Linked DNA regions of Homo sapiens. The protein of the gene in region 1 interacts with the protein of each later gene in a biochemical or structural test. Each region holds a gene or a part of one and is shown on either strand. Other genes may lie near its edges.

Region 1 (3,921 bases):
AACTGGGCTCTGGTGGTTGGGAGGAGGAGGGAAGGAAGCAAGTACCAGGGTAAGCAGGATGGATGGATGGCTCTCCCCCAGAGGGGCGGCAGCACACAGAGTTCTGGAGTCAGACTCAGTAGAGGGCCAGTTTTGACTCCACTGCCAACCACCTGGCTGACTCCAGGCAGGTTACATCACTGATGAAAGCCTCAGTTTCCTTGTCTATAAATTGGGGGTACAAGCGATGAAAAGAGGCTCAACATCACTAATCACTAGGGAAATGCAAATGAAAATCATAAGGAGGTACCACTTTGTACCCTTAAAAATAGTTACTACAAAAAGAAAAAAAAAACACCCAGAAATCCACTTTGGGAGGCCGAGGCAGGAGGATTGCTAGGGGGCAGGAGTTCAAGACAGCACTGGGCAACATAGTAAGACCCCATCTCTACAAAAAATAAATAAAAAATTAGCCAGGCATGAGGGCATGTGACTGTAGTTCCAGCTTCTCAGGAGGCTGGGGCAGGAGGATCACTTGAGCCCAAGAGTTTGAGGTTGCAGTGAGCTATGACCATATCTCTGCACTCCAGCCTGGGTGACAGGGCAAGACCCCACCTCTAAAAAAGTGTTGTTGTTGTTTTTAAACACAGAAAATAACAAGTGTTAGTGAGGATGTAGAGAAATTGAAACCCTTGTTCATTCCTAGTGGGAGTGTAAAATGGTGCAGCCACTATGGAAAATAATGTGGTGGTCCCTAAAAAAATTAAAAATAGAATCACCATATGATCCAGCAATACTAATTCTGGATATATGTCTAAAATAATTGAAACAGGGTTTCAAAGAGATATTTGTACACCATGTCTATGGTAGCATTATTCACAATAGTCAAAAGGTGAAAGCAACCCAAGTGTCCTTCCACAGACAAATGGATAAACATAATGTGGTATATGCGTACAATGGACGATTATTCAGCTTTAAAAAGGAAGGACATGCTACAACGTGGATAAACCTTGAGGAGACTACGCTTAGTGAAATAAGCCAGTCACAAGACAAATTATTTTCTGATTTCACTACAGGAGTAGTCACACTCACAGAAGCAGAAAGTAAATGGTGGTTGCCAGGGACTGGAAGAAGGAAGGAGTAGGGAGTCGTTGTTTCATGGGTATAGAGTTTCAGTTTTGTAAGATGAAAGTAGTGTTGGAGATTGATTGCACAACAGTGTGAACGCTTCTGAACTGTACACTTAAAAATGGCTAAGATGGTAAACTGTATATTATGTGTACTTTATCTCAGTTTTCAAAATGGGGATAATAAGAGAAGCCACCTTATCTGAGTTGTTGGGAGGACTCAGTGAGATAATGCCCCATGCCCCATCCGGTGGTGGCCAGCACAGAGTGTGGCACCAGCAAAGAGTGTGGCACCAGCAAATGGGCTTCCTAGGTGGTGGTGAGGAGTGGTAAAGGCAGAAGCTCAGCACCTTCTTTGCCTTCTCCACTGGCTGGGGACAGTGGGCATGGTGGGAGCTGTTCTAAAGTCCAGGTTGTGGCCTGTGTAATAGGTGATGGGACTTGCTGGAGGCTGAGCCCCTCTCCCCACAGTGGCAGTTCCAAGCCTCAGAGAATAGAACACAAGTCCAAACCCATACTGACTTGGCCAGTGCCAGTGTACAGGGCCAAGCCCAGGGCCCCTGAGAAGGTTCTCTGCATCCCAGTTGGCACAACACAGGTAGTGGGACTGTCCTCAGATTGTGTCTTTGCCTTATACTGCCGTGCCAGGATCTCCCAATGGGCATATCTTTGGGGACAGACAAGTCTGCCTGAACTGCCCCCCAACACCTCTTCACAGGAGGACAGGGTTAGCCAGGAACCAAGGATGGCATGCTGTGCTGTAGAAATGCCTTTCATAGTATGCCAGGAGGTAGCAATAAGGTGTCTGAGTTGGGGTTTGCGTGAGTGCATTCGTCTGTGTGTGTACATGTGTATAAGGTAGTTTCCTTCTTCAGGGGTTGATTGTGAGGTCCAAGTTTTTCAACCTGTGCAGTTACTAAGAGTCAAATTATTTTTCGTTTTATTTTATTTTATTTTATTTTATTTTATTTTATTTTTTTGAGATGGAGTTTCTTTCTTCGTTCTTGTTGCCCAGGGTGGAGGAGTGCAATGGTGCCATCTCGGCTCACTGCAACCTCTGCCTCCTTGGTTCAAGCGATTCTCCTGCCTCAGCCTCCCGAGTAGCTGGGATTACAGGGGCCTGCTACCATGCCCGGCTAGTTTTTTGTTTGTTTGTTTGTTTGTTTTTTGTATTTTTAGTAGAGACAGGGTTTCACCATGTTGGCCAGGCTGGTCTCGAACTCCTGACCTAAGGTGATCCACCTGCCTCGGCCTCCCAAAGTGTTGGGATTACAGGCGTGAGCCACCGCGCCTGGCGATTATTTTTTAACTTTATTTTGAAATAACTTTTGATTTAGAGAGAAGTTTGAAAATAGTACAGAGATTTCACATATACCCTTCATCTAGCTTTCTCTGATGTTAACAATTTAAATACGCGTTATGCATTTATCCAAACCAGGAAATTAACATTGGTTACAATAGTAATAACTGAACTACAGACTTTGTTTGGATTTCACCAGTTTTTCTACTACTGCCCTTTTTCTATCGTAGGATCCCATCCAAAATCCCATGTTGTATTTAGTTGTCATGTCTCAGTCTCCAATCTGTGATTGTTCCTTAGTCTTTCCTTATCTTTCATGATCTTGACATTTTTATGAGTATTTTGATGAATGCTCCTCAGTTTGGGTTGGCATGATTTTTCTCACAATTAGATTGCGTTATGCACTTTTTGGTAATGATACCTTAGAAGTGATGCATTCTCTGGGCATCATACCAGTGGGTACATGATGCTGATGTGTCTTATTACTGGTGATGTTAACCTTGATCATTTGTCAAGTTGGTGTCTGTGGAATTTCTCTGCTGTAAAGGTACTATTTTTTCCTCTGTCACTAATAAATATCTTAAGGGAGGTTCTTCGAGATTATACAAAATCCTGTGTCTCCTCAAATTTTTATTCACTGATTTTAGCATTCATCACTAGGTCTTGACTGAAACAATTATTACTGCAGTTTGCCTAGTGATGATTTTGCATTTTCTGATTCCTTCAACATTTATTAATTGGAATTCTTCTGAGAAGAAGAGCTTCCCCTCCACATCTATTTATTAATGTATGCAATTGTTAACTTATATCAGTACAGGTTCATACATACTTATTTTATTTCATCAGTTATAAACTAATGCTATCCATCTTTATTTTGTTGCTCCAGTTATTCTAGCTCAAACCAAGTTATTTTTCACTTTAAGGATAGAGAATGTAGATATCCAGGGTAAGGGCCTTTATCTGTCTCTGCAGTCAGGGCTAGAGGAGTCTGTGTTTACCCCTGCGGGAGGAGTGCCAGTCACAGCTCGTTGCTAAGTTTTCCATCAGGCAGCAGTTGAGCAGGAACGCAAGCAGGGACTGGTGGGACCTGGGTTGGGACTGAAGCTTCTGTTGGGGAAGGAAGTGCCCCAAGCAACCCAGAGTGTCTGATGCTGGGGTCCTCATCCCTGAGACCTACTGCAGGGGTCAGATCTCAGTCTCCATGGGCATGGCCCTTCATATATAGCCCTCAGGGCCAAGACCTCAGAGAGAAGAGGCCCTGCGTGTGAGGAAACCCGGCAGCCTCCTGCCCTGAGGCTAAAGGAGCAGGAAGGGCAACAAATGCTCTGCTCTGGAGAGGGCCTAAGTTCATCTGCAGGGCCACAGGGCAAGCAGCAGAGGCAATCCTGGCTCGTGGCCAGGGGCTAAGCATGGGCTGGCCTTTGCCTCAAGCATGTCCTCTTCTCCCATGGAGCATCATTAGGGTCTTGACCTTCCCATCAGTCCATGGGCTGGGAAAACTGAGGCAGTCACCTC
Region 2 (3,921 bases), on another chromosome or scaffold:
GGCCTCCCAAAGTGCTGGGATTACAGGTATAAGCCAACACGCCCGGGCCACACATTTTTTTTAAGGTGTCCTATGGGGCACAACAGGACCAGAGAAGCCATAGGGAGCTAGCTTTTGGCTTAAGAACCAACTGAAGCTGCCAGAAATGATGAGTCATTTTGCAGTTGGTGGAAAGTCAAGCAGAAATCAGAGGCGGCTGCTGCAGCTGTTTGTTGTAAAGGGGATTCTGACCCCTCCTGATCTTATCATAGAATGATTTAATTGTAATTTTTCTGTTTTGGTTAATAGAGAACTTTGATCGAAAAAGAAGCCTGCCCTCATCATCTCCTTCCCCGCTCTCCAAAGTAAGCCCTGTAGGTTGGGGTGGAGGGTAGATCTTTGAGATACATCAGTGAGTAAAACACAACCCTCTAGCAGTCCCTGGCACATACTAGACACCCAATTATCTGAATGAAGCATGAATAAAATCTCATTTTTTTTTTTTGAGACAGAGTCTCCCGCTGTTGTCCAAGCTGGAGTGCAATGGTATGTTCTCAGCTCACTGGAACCTCTGCCTCCCAGGTTCAAGTGAGTCTCCTGCCTCAGTCTCTCAAGTAGCTGGGACTACAGGTGTGTGCTACCACACCTGGCTAATTTTTATATTTTTAGTAGAGAATGAGGTTTCACCATTTTGGCCAGGCTGGTCTCGAACTCCTGACCTCAAGTGATCCGCCCACCTTGTACTCCCAAAGTGCTGGGATTTCAGGCATGAGCCACCAAGCCCGGCCAAAATCTCAAGTGTTTTAATGTTATTGCACTTTGCCTCGAGATGAGCTGCGACTGTCAGATACAGTTGATTTGCTTGTTTGGGTAGTGTTATCAGACGTATTTTTGCATGTAATGAGTCACCTGATAATTTTCCATATTTTAAAGAGAAAGGCTCCATTGTGGAACTGTTGCAAGTATATGACTGAAAGGTCTGAAGTTAGTTGAACTGGGTAACTAGGAGGTTCTGTGCTGGTGGTATTCTCACTTAGAAAGGAAGGAGATGTGGTCTTGTGGTTAGTAAGACACATGATAACCAGAGGACTAAAAATCTAATTTTAGTCAGGCTGCTAAACAGTGCGATTTGAAGTAGAGCCCACACTGTGCTCACCTTCCATTGCTTGATTTCCTACTCATCACCTAACAAATGTTCCGGACACGTGTGGGCAGCCATTTAGCTGCTGATCCAGGATCACACCATACCCAGGTCCACCCTTCTAATTGTCTCAACTAAAACAGCCAGTTAGGCTTGTAATTCTATTACAAAAAAATCAATCCTGTTTCCTGTTCTATGCCTCTTCGGTATTCAAGATCATCATTTCTTTACATGGATGGTCTGGGAGTTGATATGAATTAGGAGTATTTAAAGATGTTGGAGAGTTTGGCATAATAGAAGTGACAGCTAATGCTTACAACAATACATAGCAAAATAAATAAGCACAGATCCCAGGTCTGGAAGGGGAGGGTATTGGCAAGCAGCAAAGGGTTGGAATTAACTTTTGTTACAATATGTGACCATATAACAGCTGTCACCCTCTCACCAATTATTCCTGTGTATATGGGTTGGTCTCTTCTAGTAGCTTTGAATCTTTGGATAGTGATAAAAATAGTGTTATATTAACATTCTCCAGAGAGACAGATCTAGTAGGATATAGATACAGGTATGAGAGGAGATTAATTAGGGGAATTGGCTTGTATGATTATGGAGGCTGAGAAGCCCCACGACAGGCTGTCTTCAAGCTTGAGACCCTGGGATGCCAGTAGTGTGGCTCCGTCCAAATCTGACTGAGCCACATTACTGGCATCACCCCTGATTGGCAGTCCTACTTGTTTGCTTCTGTGCATTTGGCCTGAGAATCTGGGGGGCTGCGGCTGTAGATCTTAGAGTCCAAAGGCCGGAGAACCAGGAATTCTGATGTCCAAGCACAGGAGAGGAAGAGGGTATCCCAGCTCTAGCAGACAGACTGACACCTTTGCCTTTTCTGTAGTTCACTCAGACTCGCATGCTAATCCCCTCTGGAACCACCTTCACAGACACACACCAAAATAATGCTTTGCCGGGCTTCTAGGTATTCCTTAATCCAGTCAAGTTGGCATCTAAAATTAACTATCACAAGTGTCTTGTGTTTTACTTTTTCTAATGTGTTTAAGGAGCTCTGAAGACCATCTTACCGAAAGGAAAAGCCAGAAGAATGTACTCTGCATGAGGTACCGGCTAGTCGGTCAGATATGTCATTTCCCAACAGGGAGATTATGTATAGCTTGTTCAGTGACTTGCTCACTATCATGAACTCACTCAAAAGAAACTAGCAATTTTTTAGACTTCTTTTGGGATCCTTGTACCGCATCCTATACTGCTTTTATGTTCATGTGTGCATTTGTGTACATGTATACACATATTACTCCATAACGAAGCACAGTCTTCTTTTATACCTTTCCTGGTTGGGGTAGTAGAGGAATTTTACAGCCTACAATCAGACACATCCAGAAGAAGAGTGGAATATGTATGATACCTTAAAAATCAGCACATTTAACAAAGTATAACTTACTCATGGTTACAACTAAGTTAATGTTTTTTCCCTTTATTTTTCAAAAGGCTCATTTTTCTCCATTTCTCTACTATCAAAGTCAAGAACTGCCCAATGGCTCTGTCAAGGAGGCTCCAGCTCCTACTCCCACTTCTCTGGAAGTCTCAAGTCCACCAGATACTACAGAGGAAGTAGATCATAAGCCTAAACTCTGCAGGCTGGCTAAAGGTGAAAATGGCTATGGCTTTCACTTAAATGCGATTCGGGGTCTGCCAGGCTCATTCATCAAAGAGGTATGGTAATCTGGTTCCAGCAGCCCAACAAACACAGCCACAATTAGGATAGTCTCAGCTTTTCCCACCCATTGATGGCTTAGTAGAGAGGTTCCATTGAAGGCACACACTGAGGGGTCTCACTTGGGTTCAGATAAATGTTGTCATGGTCCCACACCCTTTAGGTTAGCTACCAGTACATCATAAGCTCACGTTTGTTTGTTTCCCAAACATCTGTTCCAAACAGTGTGAGTTGACTGAACTCTAGTTGACAGTCACTATCAACCCTGATTGGCAGTCATATTTGTTTGCTTCTGTGCATTTGGCATAATGCCCCTTACCCTGTAGGGACTGATAAGAATCCCTAAAGCTTTCAAGTTGGGAGTGAAGAAGGGGGACCTATTTATCCCCCTTCATCCCAGAAGACATATGATGCTGAACCACTATTTATAATACCACTAATCATGTGAATATGGAAGTTATAGCCTTCATAAATATAAAAGCATTAGAACACCTTTCTCAACTTCTATACCTCAAGGAGAAATAATAACATGATTAAAAATAAATTCTTGAGCTCCTCATCTATTCTCTTAAGGAGAGCTAGTCTGATGTCCCCTTCTCTGTTTGAAATTGATAACTCAGAACTTCTGTTCACAGGTACAGAAGGGCGGTCCTGCTGACTTGGCTGGGCTAGAGGATGAGGATGTCATCATTGAAGTGAATGGGGTGAATGTGCTAGATGAACCCTATGAGAAGGTGGTGGATAGAATCCAGAGCAGTGGGAAGAATGTCACACTTCTAGTCTGTGGAAAGAAGGCCTATGATTATTTCCAAGCTAAGAAAATCCCTATTGTTTCCTCCCTGGCTGATCCACTTGACACCCCTCCAGATTCTAAAGAAGGAATAGTGGTGGAGTCAAACCATGACTCGCACATGGCAAAAGAACGGGTGAGTGGGGGCCTATTTCTTTTCGTGATCTAATTTACTAGAGTATGGGTACAGTCCCTATGAGTATATTTAATGTCTATGTTTGCCACAGATTTTTTTAAAACTAGAAAATGAAAATGTAAAGATAACTAACAAATCAAGTTATTGTA

What was found.
Region 2: the proteins of SLC22A4 (region 1) and PDZK1 form a complex in vitro, tested with the Homo sapiens proteins (one study listed by BioGRID).

What each region holds. Positions count from the first base shown.
Region 1 is NC_000005.10:132,297,351-132,301,271, forward strand, and holds part of SLC22A4 (solute carrier family 22 member 4), read left to right. Parts: intron 1-3,921.
Region 2 is NC_000001.11:145,672,581-145,676,501, reverse strand, and holds part of PDZK1 (Na(+)/H(+) exchange regulatory cofactor NHE-RF3), read left to right. Parts: intron 1-288; coding exon of another isoform or gene 289-344; intron 345-2,175; coding exon of another isoform or gene 2,176-2,232; intron 2,233-2,620; coding exon 2,621-2,845; intron 2,846-3,481; coding exon 3,482-3,772; intron 3,773-3,921. UniProt on the Homo sapiens protein: A scaffold protein that connects plasma membrane proteins and regulatory components, regulating their surface expression in epithelial cells apical domains.